Linked DNA regions of Homo sapiens. The protein of the gene in region 1 purifies or fractionates together with the protein of each later gene. This does not show direct contact. Each region holds a gene or a part of one and is shown in the gene's direction. Other genes may lie near its edges.

What was found. Proteins that work in one complex are often made in the same cells at the same time.
Region 2: the proteins of CAMKV (region 1) and GPATCH8 purify together in Homo sapiens (affinity purification with mass spectrometry; 4 studies listed by BioGRID and IntAct, with this or other methods). This does not show direct contact.
Region 3: the proteins of CAMKV (region 1) and PNISR purify together in Homo sapiens (affinity purification with mass spectrometry; 4 studies listed by BioGRID and IntAct, with this or other methods). This does not show direct contact.

The regions. Positions count from the first base shown.
Region 1 is NC_000003.12:49,866,672-49,874,489, reverse strand, and holds the start of CAMKV (caM kinase-like vesicle-associated protein), read left to right. Parts: upstream 1-4,583; 5' UTR 4,584-4,732; intron 4,733-7,818. UniProt on the Homo sapiens protein: Does not appear to have detectable kinase activity.
Region 2 is NC_000017.11:44,430,407-44,437,406, reverse strand, and holds part of GPATCH8 (G patch domain-containing protein 8), read left to right. Parts: exon of another isoform or gene 1-861; coding exon 862-929; intron 930-2,255; coding exon 2,256-2,342; intron 2,343-7,000.
Region 3 is NC_000006.12:99,397,550-99,401,308, reverse strand, and holds the end of PNISR (arginine/serine-rich protein PNISR), read left to right. Parts: coding exon 1-769; 3' UTR 770-997; coding exon of another isoform or gene 998-1,035; 3' UTR 1,036-3,259; downstream 3,260-3,759.

The DNA.
Region 1 (7,818 bases):
CACGGGGCCTGCTATGAACTGGTGTCCACCATGGATGCTCTGCCAGTTCGGTCGCCAGTGCTCTGCTGCCACTCACTGGGACCCTTCCAGGACATGGCGGCCGTGGTGATTGATACAGGCACAGGATTCACCAAATGTGGACTGGCGGGAGAGGACCATGTCCTCAGTGTCATACCCTCACGAGTTCAGCTGCTGCAGCACCCAGCCCAGGGCCAGCCACGATATGCAGTGCCTGAAAACCAAGTGGGATCCTATTCAGTGCTGAACCGTGGTGTGGTCTATGACTGGGATGCACTAGAGGTGCTATGGCAGCACCTGTTCTATTGAAGGCTGGGTGTGCAGCCCGAGAAGCTGTCTGTGCTCGTAGCCGACTCGCCCATCTCACCACTCACCAACCGAGAAAAGGTGGCTGAAATACTCTTTGAGCATTTCCATGTCCCAGCCATGCAGACAGTGCATCAGGCCCTGCTGGCGCTCTATGCTTATGGACGTACCACTGGGCTGGTGCTGGGCAGTGGCCATGGCACTTCCTATGTGGCACCCATCCTCACTGGGGATCTGGCCCCACTTGACACCTACCGGCTGGATGTGGCTGGTGCTGACCTTACTGACTACTTGGCCCAGCTGCTGCAGAGAAGTGGCCACTCACTGCCCCAGGCAGGACTGATCAACCAGATGAAAGAGGCCTGCTGCTACGTGGCCATGGATGTGGCAGCTGAGAGGGCCCACACCCAGGCGCAGGCCGAGGTGGACTTTGTGCTTCCAGACAAGCAGGTTATCACGCTGGGGCCTGAGCGCTTCTGCTGCCCTGAGGCCCTCTTCCAACCCAATCTGATAGGTCTCAACCAGCTGGGCCTTCCACAGCTGGCCCTCCTAAGCATCAGCCGGTTGGAGGCCAAGCAGCAGGAGCAGCTACTGGCCAATGTGGTACTGGACGGTGGCAGCACCCTCATGAGTGGCTTCCCTGAGCGCCTGAGACAGGAGCTGGGCCCTGGTGCCACTGTGCTGGGGTCTCCCCACCGTGCAGTTGCTGCCTGGCTTGGGGGCTCCATCATGGCATCCCGGAGCTCTTTCCAGAGCCTGTGGCTCAGCTGCCAGGAATATGAGGAAGAGGGCCCATGGGCTATCTATAAGTACCAGCTGTGAGCATATAAAAGTTCTGGTTCTGCTTTCTTTAAGCACCGTGGCATGTTTCAGCCACAGGGTGGTGTGGGAAAAGCAGGAGTCCAGGCATGGGGTCATGGATGGGGGCCCTGGCTCTCTCCAAAGGCATGCCCTGCCTCTGCACTCTGGAACTCCATGGGCCCTGGCAACCTACCCTTTCTAGACAGCCCCGGAGCCCCTTGACTGGCATTGGCTCTGATCTGGCCTGACCTTTACTGCACCCCAAGGGCAACCACAGACAGTGGCTGCTGTGGGTTTTGCCCCGTTGCCCTGACGACAAGTGCAATTACCCTTGATTGCCAGCTTGTTGCCATGGCAATTTCAAACATAATGTAATAACCCACACAGCCTGGAGTGAGTCACAAGGTGGGGGGCGGGGGGCAGCCCCCTCCCCTGGCTCCAGAGGAAAAGACTGCTTGCCCTTCCCCATTGTGGGCCCTCTTCTGGGGACTGAAGCCAAGCAACATGGACAACAGTCAGGCAGTTTCAAAGATGGCTGGGGGCCTGGGGTGGGAGGGTTCTGTCAGAGTTCAGGCTTCTTGGGGAGCTGCACTGGTAATCTAGGTACCTCCTAGAGTCTGAACCTTTGCTGGAGCGCTATGCTGGGTTAGCAGGGGCTTCTATCAGCCAGCCAGAATCTAAGGGCATAGGAGTGCCGGCCTTTGGCACCCTAGAGCTGGGAGTTGGGGGCACAGATAAGTCCTGGATCCTGGGTAGGAGGCCCAACCTGAGCTGGGGGATGAAGCTCTGTGGATACTGCGGCTCGCACCTTATTCTGCCCCTCTGACTTTCTAGCTTTGGTGGGAGCCAGAACTACGAACTTGGGCCCTCTTCTCCTCCTCAGCCTCCCAACCCAGGCAGCCCCTGTCTTCAGGGTACAGGCCTCCTTAGGAGGGTCCTCATAAAGGCTACTAGGCAATGCTAATCTGGATTGCCTCTGCTCTTGTTCCAAACTCTGGTCTGTGCTAAAGGGCCTCCTGCCATCACTCTGGCCAGTGGAGTGGTGAGAAATCATGTCCCCTGACCCCGTCTGGCTTTGAATAGTGGAAGTAAGAACAAAGCTCAGCATTGGTCCCGTCCCTGCCCTGGAAGAGCTAAGAGGATGGCATTCAGCTGATGTTACTATCTCCTGCCTGAAAGGCAGCTGGAGGTTGAAGCCAAAACATTGAAGCCGGTCCTACCCTGCCTGTGCCTTCCTGTCTAGGGGCTGAGGGATAAGCCATGGCTCAATCCTAGCCCTGGGTTCTTGTCTTCAGATTGCCCTCCACAAATGGCAAAGACTTGTCTATCTTCACATACACCAGAGATCAAGGGGCTGCTCTGGTGGGGAGCCTGAAAACAGCCAATGATGTAGGGTCAGCACAGACCCTGCCCACTGCTGGACATGGTCCAGCCCCCTTCCCATGTCCAGCTCTCAAAGCCTGATTCAGCCTCCACAATCCTGAGACTTGTGTCAGGCAGGAAGGGGACTGATAACTCCAGGGACCAGCTACAGCGTCCACACACACGTGCCAGCAAGCATGCCTGGGTGCACAAAGAATGCAGACACACGTGCCCCTGGGCACCACTGCATACACTGTGCTGTTGCATCTCCCTCGGCAAAAGAGAGCATACACAACACGTACACGTGTGCACACACACCCTGCCACGTGCTCTCACCCACATGCACAGAGCGTGCTTAGGACCAAGAAGAGGTGGAGTACTGCCAGCAGCAGGCAGGGCGCTAAGGAGCCACCCCTTCCCCTGCCTAAAAATCCCCATTCCAGCTTCTCATTGACCCCCATGCCTGGATAGCCATGACCCTCAGGAAAGACAGAAAACATGTATGTGGCATGTGTGGGGTCAGCAAGCTACAGCTTGGCTACACCATAAAACTCAGAGACCCATTGTTTCAAGAATAGTGGGCAGATGGCAGGAAGGACTCAGTGCCAGGCCATTCATTCATTCTGCAGACATCAGCCGAGCATACTGAGATGAGAAACGGGTTCTGCCTTGCAGATACCCAGCCTGCCAGGAGATTCCTACCCAGTGGTGGGGTGGGTCCCATAACCCGAGACCACTCAGAGCCCAGGGACCCCAGAAGTGGCACCAGCCTGGCCTAGAGGAGGTAACACCAAGCCAGGGAGGAAGGTGAAGGGCTCAGTACCCCCTCTGGAGGAAAATTTTGAGGAACCTTGTTTGAGGCGGTCATTTCCTAAGCTAGCCTTCAGTCTGAGCCCCAGCCCCAGCTTCTGGACTTGGACAGTCCCTCCTGTCATCAGCCATGGGTGGCCAGGGCAGCCTCAAGATGGCTGAGGGTTTGGGGATGACCCCAACTCCCTCTCCCACAGCAGGGTCAGGAGGCTCACTGGGAGGAGTGAGGTGGGATAAAACCCAGCTCCAGACACTGAGAGGCCTGAGTCTGGTCTTCAGATACTGGCCTTAGGATGGTCCTCAGGGCTTGTGAGGGGTGTGGGTCAGGCTTTGGGTCCGTGAGCCTCACTGACAAGGGACAGAGAAATGGCCAAGGACTTCCTTTAAAGCTTCCTCCTGGTGGTTCTGAGCCTCCTCCCTCTGATTAGCACCCAGGCCAGGTGGGATACCTTGGTGCCACAGTTCTCCTGTGTCCCCATATCCCAGGCCAGGCCACTAGAGTGATACAACTCATGAAGTGTTTGACAGTGATTAGACTGAAAAGAAAGCAGAGGCCACACCATGTCACAGGTGACTTTTATAGTTTGGGAAATTTGGTGCCACACAGGAAGGGGCTGACTGTGCTGCCACCCTTGCTGGTACTTATGTTTGGGAAAGACTCTGGCCTTGCAGGAGTTGGGGATGGGGTGGGATAGGAGACTTTGCTACTACAGTCTAGGGCCCTCACTGTTTTCACACTGACTACCTGCAAACACACACCTCTGTGTGTTTACTGCTCCTAGCTAGGGGATGCGTAGCTAGGGGATGCTAGGGGATGCCACACTGACTACCTGCAAACACACACCTCTGTGTGTTTACTGCTCCTAGCTAGGGGAGCCTGCCCTAGCCCGACTGCCCATCTGGTTTTTCTAAGTTGGTCCTGCCTTTTGGGTCGGGTTCGGGGAGCTGGGCAAAGCCCCGTTCCCTAGAGACTAATGACTGGCAAGCGATCCTATGCAGCTCCAGGACTCAGGCTTTCCCCCAACTCTCCACTCACCACCCCTTACATTGGGCATAGGAGGCCTCCTCCGGCCCCAGGCTGAGGGCCTAAGGGAGCCATTGAGAACCTTGGCCAGGGCTAAGCAGGCCAGTGCTCACCAGCACCGCTGCCATCCCGCGCGCTCCTGCTCTCCAGTGGGATTCTGCCCTTAAGGCTCCGCCAGGGTCGGGGCGGGGCCGGTTGGGAGGCCCCGCCCCCAGCCCGCCCCCGGCCCGGGGTGCGAATCCGGTGCCGGCAAGCGGCTGGCGATGCTGGAGGTTCGCTAGCCGAAGCGGCTGCATCTGGCGCCGCGTCTGCCCCGCGTGCTCGGAGCGGATTCTGCCCGCCGTCCCCGGAGCCCTCGGCGCCCCGCTGAGCCCGCGATCACTTCCTCCCTGTGACCAACCGGCGCTGCAGGTGCGGGGCGGGCCGGGCTGGGGGCGCTTCCCGAACGCAGGTTGTGGGGCCTTGGGGGATTGTTTCCCTGGCTCGAGGTGCGGGATGCAGAGTGCGCGGGGGCGCAGCGAGGGCTCGAGGTCCTGGCGGGGTCAGAGCGCGCGGGCTTTGCAGATTTGGGGGAGGGAGTGCGGGGTCGGGCTAAAGTTCCCCATTACCTCGGACGGCTTGGGGGTTCTGGGGGGAAGCTTCTGCGGCTCGGAATTGTGAAAAGATTAACCCTCGAAGATTCGTGGTCCCCCGTGAGGATAGGGGCCGAGAGCTGAGCCGTCCCTCCCCGTTCCCAGAGCCGCCTCCAGCCCCTCCCAACTGTCCCCGGGCCCCTTCCCTCCCGCTTAGCAGTCACTAATTTCCATGACAACGGAGAGTTCTTTATGGGCGACAACCCGGAGGGGGCTGGGCGGGGCTGCCGCGGGGTGGGGGAGGAAGCTCCAAGCCCCTGGGGACCAGCAGCCCCCCAGCCAAAATTCAGCTTCCAAGCCTTCACCTGGGTGCCAGCTGGGGGTCCAGTGCATGGACCCACGTGCACGGTGGGGGTGGGGGCGCACATGTTCCTGCTGGGAGGTGCGGGGCTTGGTGCTCACACGTGTGCTTTCCGCATGTGTGTTGCTGTGCCAGCGGGGGCGAGCCAGCAGCACTTGGGAAAGGGGTCAGGGTGGCAGCACGGTGGGGAGCAGGGCCCCTGGCTGGAGGTGGCTGGGATAGTGACAGCATGAGCTTCTGCCTTCCCCAGCTTGTACTGTTTGGCAGAGACCCTGGGCTCTTGAGCCCCAGCCCCCTCCCCGCATAGCTCTGCCAAATTGCTTTTGTCCGCACCTCCCAGGCAGATCCTGCTCCACCAGGTTCCTTCCTAAGGATCAGGGCCCTCTGTCCCACACTAAAAGCTCAGAGTCTGCAGTAGTCCAGTCCCTGTGCTGTACTCCCCTTACCCCCAAGTCCAGGCTTTGAGCCCCCAGGACTACCTTTAGAGACCTGGTGCCCTCCCCCACCCTCAGAGTTGATTCCTGGCAGCTCCAGCGACTTCTGAGCCTCAGTTTCCTCAACTGGGGAACTGGTGTCTCCACTCAGAGTCAGGTTGGTTTCCAGGGTGGGGCAAGGGTCTCCCTTTTCTAATATTTGGTGTGGACCCTTCAGGTGCTCTCCTAGGCTGGCTGTTCACATATCTCTGATGGCCCTACTCTCCAGCCCCATGCCCTGGCCACCATTCACAGGCAGGCAAGCAGTCCTCTGCCCTGGGAGAAGGCCAGATTCCATGGTTTCCATTAGGGGAAACTGAGGCATGGGGAGGTGAAGGGCTGTGTGGTTATCCTGTTTCTGGGTTGCTTGTGGTGCCGTTTCTGGCACTCATGGCAGGATCTGCTGTTGGGGGTTGGTGAGAGGGGATTAAGCAGAGCTGTAAGAGGGGCTCTGGGGACCCAAAGCCTGGAAAGGATAGCAGATGGGGGAGGGGTTGGCTGGGAGGGTCTAAGTACAGCTGGGCCAACTGAGAAGAGGGACTATAAAGGGAAGCAGCCAGGCATCCGAGCCTCATTTCCATACCCCTATGCGTCTGCCTTCAACATGTTGGACCTGCTTTACCTAAGCTGCCGTGATGGCAGAGAGACGGGCTGGGAACTGTCCTGACTGGGGGGCTGCAGCAGCTGGCCTCTTCCCCACCAACATGCTCCAAGGAGCTGGCCTCCTTTTGGCTGTGCCTCCTACACCAAGTTCAGTGTATGTTTGGGGGATACAGGAGGGTGCAGTCTCGAAGGTCCCAGTACCATGGATAGCTCCTGGCCCAGGGATTTAGAGCACATCGCCATGGAGGCCTTAGGGCTCTGCTGGGCACCCATCCGCCCCCTTCAGAACTCCCGTCCACCTCCCCTTTCCTGCCCTTTGTGCCTGTGTCCCTTTTACTTTGTCATCTCCTTGCTCCTCTTCCATCACAGGTTCTGTCTTTGTCTGTGTCTCTGCCCCATTCTCTTTTTTCTAAATTCTCTCCATCTCCCCACCTCCCCTTTCTTGATGGGGACCTGGGTCACAGAACCTTGAAGAAGCAGCCAGGCTAAGGTCTCAGGAAATTCTTGAAGAAGGGACCTGACCAACACATCTCCCCTCCCCCTCCCCTTGTTTTAAAACTTCCATCACCATAGCAACCCTTTACTCTAGTGCCTTCCTCTGCATTTCCCCTCCTCCACCCACAGGGAAGCAGAGCCTCCAGTGGATTCTCCTTCAGGGGTTCAGAGATTTGGACCCCAAGTGCTTGGGAGGAGACAGCTGGCCTTTGGCTTTGCCTGCATGTTGACAGCTAAACTTTCGGGATGTAGCACTGGACTGCATGCCCACCCCCAAAACTGGAGAGACCTCCCCACAATACTCCCTCATTAGATGGGCAAAATTCAGCTGTAGGAACTTCTACCATGATTTAGCTCGAGCCGGAGGCTCAGTCAGGGCAGCCCCTTGACCGGTCCCCTGAAGCAATTGGATGGTGGTCTAGAAGCTTGGCCCTTGTTCTTAACAGACCTTGAGGGAGGTCTTCAGCTCCCCTGGTCCTGTGGGTGACACCTCAGCTGTGAGTTAAGCAGGGCTTGGGCTTCAGCATGTTCATTGCAGCAGGAAACCCAGCCCCAGCCCTTGAGAGAGTAGAGCAGCAGAGAGGAGGGGGTGCCTGCAGGCTGGTGTTCACAGCTGCCACTAAATTAGGAGGTGTTGCCTACAGTTGTTGGGAGGCAGCTGGAGGCCTCTTGGGCCCCTCCTGGCCTCCCTAGATTTACTGCAAGCTCTGGAGCCCCACGTGGCAGGGGACCAAGGTAGCAGGAAACTCTGTTTATGTCTATGAAAGGTAGGGCCTGAACCAGGATGATCTCAGCGGAGGAGGGGACAGGACCCCAATGTGGGGCCTCCGGACCTCTTGGCCTTTGTCCCGTTTGGGCTTTCCCTGGGCCAGACTTACCTAAAGATGCAGCAGAGTCCCTGGGGGACCATTTATCACCAGGGCACCAACAGAGGACCCCTCAGGATTGCTGGAGGCTCAATTCCCTGAGTCCAGTGGTCAGGCCCTGGGAGCA
Region 2 (7,000 bases), on another chromosome or scaffold:
GTGATGTAAAACAGCTGTGGTAGTAAAGTGCTTGTCTGCCCCATTTTGCTTTGTTTGGCTGGTTATGAGTGGATTAAATATATATTTATTAAAAAAATTATCCAGCATAGATCAATTAGTTTAAAGTCAATTTTCTTCGCAACTAGTCCTTTTCACAGCTTACCAGTTACCCTCGCAGCCAGTGTTAAATCCACTCTAGGAAATGGGACTTTAGAGCACCAGATTAAAAGGAAAACTATTCTTTTCTCTAAGGGCAACTAATTGTTTCTTTTTATTTAAACTTTTCACAGCCCCATTAAATTGTAAAGCATCTCCTAGTCTATGAGGAACATCAAAAAAAATTGTAAAGCATCTTTTGAAAACAAATTCAACATACTGAGTTGTAATTATAAAGTTTTACTGCATCATGTTTAAAAATGTACTTTTTCTATTTAACCATGCCAGTTGAGATTTTTTTTTTTAAACTAGGTTAAAAAGTTGTGTAGGAGGATATCAGTGGGCAGAGTAAAGTGATACTTGATGGGAAGTTATTTGGGGATCTTAAAAGGAATTTTTAAAGTTTTACAATTTAAACCTCCTGATGCCATTGCTTAAAAGTGCTTTGCATTACTTATTAATGTAATTTTGCCATAGTAATTTGAAATTAATCCCAACTGGACGTCAGCCAAGGTGGTTAATTGGGTTTAAACTAGGAAAGGAAGGTCTTGAGTGTAAGCTGTGAGAATGGCTTGTGTTTGGTTCACTGTAGCTTTCTGGTCTCTGCACTCCAAGGCAAGATCTCTAACCACCCAAAACCCAATGTGTAAAATGAGCTGTTGGTTTGGCTTTGCACCTTACCTTGATTATGTGTTCCTGTTACAGGGAGAACAGATCCCATTCCAATCGTTGTCAAGTATGATGTCATGGGCATGGGTCGCATGGAAATGGAGGTAAATTGATCTCATTAACTCATAAGTTTTGTGAGATATTTTGAAATAATACTAATTCCAAATTCAGATGTCTGTGCAAGAATACATTTATCAGATGAAATGTAGTTTTAATATTTTTCTTTGGATGACTAAAAAATATATTTTACATTTTCATTTAGTGCTACTTTTGAGACAAATAGAATATAAACAGAGCTGCTGTTTTAACTGGCACATAAAGAAGTTAAGTGATTTGCCGAGGGTTATACAGCAAGGCAATATCAGACTTAGATCCAGACCTTGGTACTTGCTTCAGTAGGCAGTGTTGCTCAGCTCTTAAAATGTTGCTGTGATAAAAGCTTTGCCTTTGTAGAATTGGGTACGGCTGTCACCTGTAATACCTGCTTTTCATTGCCTAAAATATTTTCTTCATTGACTCCTAATTCCTTTTTTTTTTTTTTTTTTTTTTTTTGAGATGGAGTTTCGCTCTTGTTGCCCAGGCTAGAGTGCAATGGCGCAGTCTCGGCTCACTGCAACCTCCGTCTCCCGGGTTCAAGGGATTCTCCTGTCTCCTGTCTCAGCCTTCTAAGTAGCTGGGATTACAGGCGCATGACACCATGCCCGGGTAATTTTTGTGTTTTTAGTAGAAACAGGGTTTCATCATATTGGTCAGGCTGGTCTTGAACTCTTGACCTCAGGTGACCCGCCCGCCTCGGCCTCCCACAGTGCTGGGATTACAGGTGTGAGCCACTGTGCCCAGCCTCAATTTTCAAAGAATTAGGAGTCGCTGGGCGCAGTGGCTCACGCCTGTAATCCCAGCACTGTGGGAGGCCGAGACAAGCAGATCACCTGAGGTGAGGAGTTCAAGATCAGCCTGGCCAACATGATGAAACTCCATCTCTACTGAAAATACAAAAAAAATTAGCAGGGCATTGTGGCGGGCACCTGTAATCCCAGCTACTCAGGAGGCTGAGGCAGGAGAATCACTTGAACTCGGGAGGCAGAGGTTGCAGTGAGCGGAGATCATGCCATTAAACCCCAGCCTGAGCAACAAGAGTGAAACTCCATCTCAAAAAAAAAAAAAAAAAAAGGAAAGAAAGAAAAGAAAATTAACATTGAAGTGAAGTCTACTTTCAACAAATGTGCCTTTTGGAAACTACCAGCCTGAAAGTAACAAACTATTTTGCATGTGATTTTCTCTGTGAGGTGACAATAAAGCAAGCAGTAGCTAAGCAAAATTACAATTTTTTTTTGTTTTCAGATAATACTGTAGTTGTGCAAATAACTTTTTCATAGCTAATCTTGGGGGTACTTTAGGAATTAAATCTAATCATATCTATTTTTGTCAAGCTTGATTATGCTGAAGATGCTACCGAACGGCGCCGTGTCCTAGAAGTAGAAAAAGAAGACACAGAAGAGCTGAGACAAAAGTACAAGGTATTTAAACAAAGCTATTCATTGGGAGATGGGGAGGTGCTCACTGAATAAGAAAGAACTCAAATTTTGTTGAAAATCATCACTGTTGCTAACAGCATTTGTTTGACATTTGGTGGTAATTAGTAGTAGATCTCAGATTTCTATTACATTCCTATTTATTGGCTCTGTATAAACTATAGAGATAATAATACCTACTTCTAAAGTGTGTTAGAAAGATTACATGAATTAGTGTTTGAAAACACAATGCCTGTTACATAGTAGGTATTCAAGTAGTGGTAGCAGTAAAAATTGTTAAAAGTCCTTTGAGGCCAGACACAATGGCTCACACTTGTAACCCCAACACTTGCAGAGGCCAGACACAGTGGCTCACACTTGTAACCCCAACACTCAGTAGAGACGGGGTTTCACCATGTTGGTCAGGCTGGTCTCGAACTCCTGACCTTGTGATCCACCCGCCTCGGCCTCCCAAAGTGCTGGGATTACAGGCGTGAGCCACCACGCCAAGCCTAATTTTTGTGTTTTTAGTAGAGATGGGGTTTCACCATGTTGGCCAGGCTGGTCTTGAACTCCTTGCCTCAGGTGATCTGCCTGCCACGGCTTCCCAGTTTGCTGGGATTTCAGGCGTAAGTCACCGCGCTTGACCCCCTTTCTTGTTTTTGAACTTAGCTTAGCTATATATTAAATTTTTGTGTGTTTTATTTTATCCAGAACTATAATATAACCAACTCATCTTCTTTTCCTGCCCCTTTTTCTTTCCCCTTTTTCTTCTCCTTTCCTCTCTCTTTATTCACTCTTCAGCCTATTTATACTGACTTTAGCAGTTTTCACCAAACCACTTTATTCAAGGCCACCAAACACTTCTATTTGCTAAATCCAATAAATCATTTATTTATTTATTTATTTTATTATTATTATTAATATTATTATTTTTTTTAAAGACTGAGTCTCACTCTGTTGCCCAGGCTGGAGTACAGTGGTGTGATCTAAGCTCACTGCTCCCGGGTTCAAGTGATTCTCGTGCCTTAGCCTCCGAGTAGCTGGGACTACAGGTATGAGCCACCACGGCCAGCTAATTTTTTTGAATTTTTGGTAGAGATGGGGTTTCACCATGTTGGCCAGGCTGGTCTCGAACTCCTTACCTCACGTGATCTGCCCACCTCGGCCTCCCAAAGTGTGGGGATTACAGGCGTGAGCCACTGCGCCTGGCATACTCTTTCTTCTTTAAAACATTTTCATTACTCTTGGTTTTGAAGAATTTATACTTTCCTAGATTAGTTGCTTCTTATCTGTCTTGCTGCTTCTATGTAGATTCCTTTGTTGGCTGCTGTTTATTCTGCCTGAACTTCAGATATTGGAGTTCCTCAGCTTCAGACCTGGGCCCTCTTTTTCTGGCTACATTCTTTCTCTAGGCACAAGAGTGGTCATGACACCATGTTTCATCATCTTTCACTTGGTTAAATTTTCTCCTTTGGGTTTTAGCTTAAATATTACCTCATTATAGATCTTCCCTAATCAACTCATTTAAATAATTAACCACTCTGCCTTATTCTCTTGCAACAACCTCTCTTACAATTTGTAATTATAAATTTTTATTCACTAATTTATATTCTGCTTTCTGTACTAGTCAGAAAGGGCATTGAGGAGAGAGAGTATGTCTATTTGTCTGCCAGTATATATCCTGCATCCAGCACAGTGTGTGGTGCATAAGTACTCAATAAATATTAGTTGAATGAATAAATATTTTGAAATAGTGAGAAAAGCCAGATTCATTTTATGTACTGTCTGAAATATAAACATTATAAAGAATACATTTTTATTTTTCAAGTAAAAGTTACACTGTCGAGTGAAAAATAAATGAAATACCTCAGTAATTCACAGCCTCATAAGATTATACATAGTATCTTGAGATGCTCTCTCCCTGGTAATAGAATTATTTCTCGGCTGGGTGCGGTGGATCACGGCTGTGCTTTGGGAGGATTGCTTGAGCCCAGGAGTTTGAGAGCAGTCTGGGCAATGTAGCAAGAATCTGTCTCTACAAAAAGAAAAAAGAAAAAAAATAGCTAGGTGTTGGTGGTGCATGCCTATAAATCCCAGCTACTTAGAGAAGCTGAATTGGGAGGATCACTTGGGCCCAGGAGTTGAAGACAGCAGTGACCTATGATCACACCACTGCACTCCAGCCTGGGCAAGAGCAAGAATTACTTTCCCCATCTTATTGATCAAAATATTTACTCCGAAACCCTGTCAACTCTGAACTACACTGTTTCTAAAATCTTAAATGTCCTATTATCTGACCATGGTCTTTTTTCCTTCCTGCTGTCACTCCTTTATTCTCCTATATTTTTTCTTCAACTTCACATGACTTTGGAAGCTTTAGTAACTTAGCTCCTCCTTAATTTGTACTTTTCCCCTCTAGCACCACACACTCATGTTTACCTCTCACAGCACTTTGATTCCAACTCCCTTTCCTCCTAGTCCTTTTGTCATACATACTCACCAAAAGCCTGTCCCGTTAGTACAAAATGCATTACTTGCATTCTTTATTTCTATACCCTTTCTGCCAACCTCACTGGGCCCTCAGAGCTGCCAATTAATCCTCTCATGTGTCATGTCCCTCTTAGTCCTCTCAGCTGTCATTCTCAAACATTGGTACTCAGCCTTCATCTTTCCTTAACTACCCTTGTCGTATCTCTGCCTTCCCGTATGTTTTTAGTTAAGAAAGAGAATTTGGACCATCAGGTAGTAATGCCTTCATCTACGTATACTATCCTACATCAAACGAGGGTTCACCTGCTCTCATACTTCAATATTTCTCTTTTGTTTCACCATCTGTTAAATGATAATTTGTACATACATCTGAATTCTGGATCCTAACTCTCCCTGTCTTATCAAAGACCTTCCACTTCTTTCCTGTATTGGCAACCTTTCTCTTTATTTGTTCTTTTCCTATCAACAGTAAACATACTTGAAGATTTGTTGGGAGAGGGAATCCTAAAATTAAAAAAAAAAAAAAAAAACCCACTCTGATTTACTCTCCATATAGCTACCACCTTCTCTTTTCACTTGTCTTTAGAACCAGAATTCTTAGTCACTACTCTGACTGCTTCCTTTTCATCACTCTCTCATCTCTAATTTTATAGAGATGGGATCTCACTCTGTCGTCCATGCTGGAGTTCTGTGGTGCTATCGTAGCTCACTACAGCCTTAAACTCCTGGGCTCATACAATCCTCCCACCTCAGCCTCCCAAGTAACCAAGACTATAGGCGTGCACCACCATGCCTGGCTAATTTTTTTTTTAAGAGATAGGGTCTCACTATGTTGCCCAGGCTGGTCTCAAACTCCTGACTTCAAATGATCCCCCTACCTCAGCCTCCCATTTTTATTTTTTAATTTTCATTTTTATCAAAGTTTTACTTGTATATAGTCTTAGAGCCAAATAGCTCTACCAGACTTTTAAAAGAAAAAACAAAAACTGCAGTCTCATTTGACATTCTTGTTATTTTATTAAATATTTTTAATATGTGAGATATAAAGAAAAACTATAAACACTTAGGTATTTTCTACTCAATTTAAGAAAAAGAGCACTATCAGTAACTTCATGATCCCATCACATTTCTGTCTCCTTTAGAGATAAACACTATGCTGATTTTTGTGTTTTTCGCCTTTTTTTTTTTTTTTTTTTTTTCCTTTTTGAGACAGTCTTGTTCTGTCACCCAGGCTGGAGTGCAATGGCAGAATCTCAGCTCACTGCAACCTTTGCCTCCTGGTTTCAAGCAATTCTCCTGCCCCAGCCTCCTGAGTAGCTGGGATTACAGGTGTGCACCATCACACCCAGCGAATTATTTTGGTATTTTTAGTGGAGACAGGGTTCTGTCATGTTGGCCAGGCTGGTCTAGAACTCCTGACCTCAAGTGATCCGCCTGCCTCAGCCTCCCAAAATGCTGGGATTACAGGCGTGAGCCACTGTGCCTGGCCCCCTCACAATTTTGTAGGTAAAATTGTTGTTGAGATAAAATTCACATAACATAAATTTACCATTTTAGTCATTTTATAGCAATACTACAATTTAATGATTTTTAGCTTATTTACAGTGTTGTAAAATTATCACCACTGTGGCCAGTGCGGTGGCTCACACCTGTAATCCCAGCACTTTGGGAGGCCAAGGTGGGCGGGTCACTTGAGGTCAGGAGTTCCAGACCAGCCTGGCCAAAATGGTGAAACCCCTTCCCTACTAAAAATACAAAAAAAAAAAAAAAAGCTGGGCGTGGTGTTGTGTGCCTGTAATCCGAGCTACTCAGGAGGCTGAGGCAGGAGAATCGCTTGAACCCAGGAGGCGGAGGTTGCAGTGAGCCAAGATCGCACCACTGCACTCCAGCCTGGGCGACAGACAGAGTGAGACTCTATCTCAAAAAAAAAAATGCAACAGTGAACATTCCTGTCGTCTTTCTGATCTTTATAGAGAAGCTTTCAGTCTTTCACCATTATGATGTTAGCTGGGGGTTTTTTGTTCTCATCAGGTTGAGGAAGTGCCTAATTTCTAGAAATTCCTGCTTTGTTTAGTGTTTTTACCATGAAAGAGAGTATTGGGTTTTGTCAAATGCTTATTTTGCATCTACTGAGATAACCTTGTGGGTTTTTTCCTTTTATATTCTGTTAA
Region 3 (3,759 bases), on another chromosome or scaffold:
TTCTCCTAAAAGGAAAAAGAGACACAGTAGGAGTAGATCTCCAACAATCAAAGCTAGACGTAGCAGGAGTAGAAGCTATTCTCGCAGAATTAAAATAGAGAGCAATAGGGCTAGGGTAAAGATTAGAGATAGAAGGAGATCTAATAGAAATAGCATTGAAAGAGAAAGACGACGAAATCGGAGTCCTTCCCGAGAGAGACGTAGAAGTAGAAGTCGCTCAAGGGATAGACGAACCAATCGTGCCAGTCGCAGTAGGAGTCGAGATAGGCGTAAAATTGATGATCAACGTGGAAATCTTAGTGGGAACAGTCATAAGCATAAAGGTGAGGCTAAAGAACAAGAGAGGAAAAAGGAGAGGAGTCGAAGTATAGATAAAGATAGGAAAAAGAAAGACAAAGAAAGGGAACGTGAACAGGATAAAAGAAAAGAGAAACAAAAAAGGGAAGAAAAAGATTTTAAGTTCAGTAGTCAGGATGATAGATTAAAAAGGAAACGAGAAAGTGAAAGAACATTTTCTAGGAGTGGTTCTATATCTGTTAAAATCATAAGACATGATTCTAGACAGGATAGTAAGAAAAGTACTACCAAAGATAGTAAAAAACATTCAGGCTCTGATTCTAGTGGAAGGAGCAGTTCTGAGTCTCCAGGAAGTAGCAAAGAAAAGAAGGCTAAGAAGCCTAAACATAGTCGATCGCGATCCGTGGAGAAATCTCAAAGGTCTGGTAAGAAGGCAAGCCGCAAACACAAGTCTAAGTCCCGATCAAGGTAGTATACTTTTTAAAGTATTTTGTCTGATTTTTAAAAAAAATTGACTGAATTTATTCAAAGTTGAAAGTGTCCTTTCTCTCTCTCTTTAATAAACTCAGTTTGGTACTTGATAAATAATCATAGTCTTAAATGTTAGAAATCCTATATAATATTATTTATTTAAAATTGCAGATTTTTAATTTAAAATACATTTTTATTTTTAAATTTTGTCTTTTCCCTTTTTTTTCAGATCAACAACCCCTCCCCGTCGTAAACGCTGAGGAATGATGTGGCAAGAATGCCATGATGTTCTTTAAAAAAATTCCATGAGTTTTAAGGGCTTGTCTCATTATAGAGGCACATTGTGGCTGTGTAGGTGAAACCAGAATCTTTTTTTTTTTTAATCTGTAAATAGGTGTACTTTTTCCAATGCTGCTCCAAGTTACTTAATAGGATTTCTTTGTATTACGTTTTTTTCAAAAAATATAGTGCATAATAAGACTATAAACATGCCATTCTCTTTCAGCTGTAATGTTCTTAAAATTATTCTTGAATGTACTGTGATGTCAATAAAGCTCTTTAGTTCATTTTTGTTAAACTCTTGCACCTTAATTTTATGGTTTTAATCTAAGGAACGTACTTTTATAAAAAGGCAGCTGGAATTTTGTATAACAGGTTTTAAAGGTACCTTCTCTCACCTCCCCCAAAGAAAATGGTTTTTACTTAATAGTTTGTCAAAGTTTGTAAATTGTACCCATGGACTTTTGCCAGATTCCAACTTTAAGGGTATGAAAGAGGGCTAGAAATAGACCTTTACTTTTCATTTGGAAGTATTTGACAACTTTCTAAACTTTTCTTCCTATTTTGGGGATTTTCAAGTAATATATTCTCTGTGTGTATAACGTGTGGTTCACTCCTGTAAAATGAAATTGCTGGAATCAATCAAGCCAGTGCACCAGTAGAGTTATTTGTAAGGAACGATTGTGTTTGACAGTAATAGTCAAGTCTGGAACTATATTCTACAGTCACCCACTTCTGTTTTAGAAGCATTTTGAAACACTTTTTGGGGTTATAGAAATAAGACTCATGATTCAATATATTTATTTATATTTTTAAAGTATAATATGACCTCAAATCAATGGAGGAATGCTGTATTATGCAGGTTTGTGTCAATTTCCTGACATTAAAATTGTCTGATTTTGTCCGTTTCTTAAAATTATGATTAGTGAGTGGTCTAACAGTTTAAGGCATTGATAACTTACAAGTAGAATGGGGCTCTCAAAGCATTTTAACTCAGTTGCTTTAGGGTCCATTTTTTTATGTAATCACTTACTCAGTGATAAATGAATCTCTGAAAACAAATGCTTTTACATTTTAATTTAAAAAGAAAACAGGTGCAGGCCACAGAAAAGTTTTAAAGTATGCCTTCTTACCAGCAATAGTTCATTTTAAAAATCATGCCAGATTTTTGCCAAGATCAGTGTTTCCTCAACATGAAGATAGAAATAGATTTGTATAGTGTGCTCTTGTACCTCTACATAGATTATTATATAATTTTGAGCAGTTACACATTTATCTAAAGGAAATAAATCAACTGTGAATAAATGCATGTTTACCAAAATGGCTGTTTACAGTGCATTTAGTTCTGATATTTATAAAGATGACATTTCACAGAATAACTTTAAAATAGTTTGAAATTCTATATAGTTTAGACATCGATCACATCTGGAGACAAAATAAAATGTGCAATATTTTTTATGTAGGCGAGCTAACACAGTGTACCTAATTGCAGAATTATCTGATTAATTTGTAATAGATAAGTTGTATAACATTTTCATATCTTAAAATGTTTTTTAGATCAATCTTGAAGTGAAATATTTTCAAAATAAAATTCTACAGAAAAATTCTGTTGGCTATGATATGCACATTTTTGGGCAAGTTATGAACTAGAGCCAAAAGTAGTATTTGACAGTTTTATTTACTCTGCCGTAATTTGCAAGCTTATCAGTTAAGTCTGTAGTTTTTTTAAAAGCCGTCATGATATTTGTGATTATTAGTACATAAACCAGTGTTATAATTTGATATTTGGGTTTTTCAGACTTTTAGTGGCAGATTTAGAGAATTCTTTATTTTCTTGACATGTGATATAGTATTTATTTACCTTGAGTGGTAAGGTTTTATAAGGTAGGGTTTCCATGATTTAGGATGTGAATGCAAAAACTTACACATAAGTTAATTAGATGTATAATTTGGTTATGAAATCTTTTCTAAAATAATACCACCAGAAAATTAACAGATCAAATTTTTGAGACAATCCTTGGTCTGGATTGGTTAATGAAAATGTCTTGTTTAAGAGGTTCTATTAAAAAATATTTCTAGTGTATTAGTCATAATTGTTTTTGTGGAGTGGGGGTAAACCACACCATTAAGGGAATAAAATGTAATTTGAAAGAGGTGATTATAAGATTTGTTTCAGGCCCCAAAATATAAATAAAAATTGGTGTGGAATCTCGTTAGTGTATATGTTTTCTGCCACTATAAAATTACCTTTTTAGCATCTGTTTCTAGTGGTGTAATACCAAGTAGGTAAATTTCGCAGTCTATTTTTAAGTGTCCTGAGTTTTTTGTTTCCTTAAACACATGAAAGGTAATAGTAAAGAATTTTTTACTGTATTTGGGAATTTTTACATAGGAGTTGTATTAGGTTTCCAGTCTCTGTAGTGTTGCCTTACAGAAATCTTTACATCTAAACTGAGTTTTTCTTCTCCTACATAAATTTAAATGTATTTTGATTTACTGAAGTTTCTAAAATGTACTGAGTACAGACATACACCACATAACGACGTTTCAGTCAATGACGGGCCACATGTACAACAGTGGTCCCATAAGATTATAATGTATTTTTACTGTACCTTTTCTGTGTTTAAATACACAAAACCATGATATTACAGTTGCCTACAGTTTTCAATATAGTATTTGTAGCCTAGGAGCAAAAGGCTATACCATGTAGCC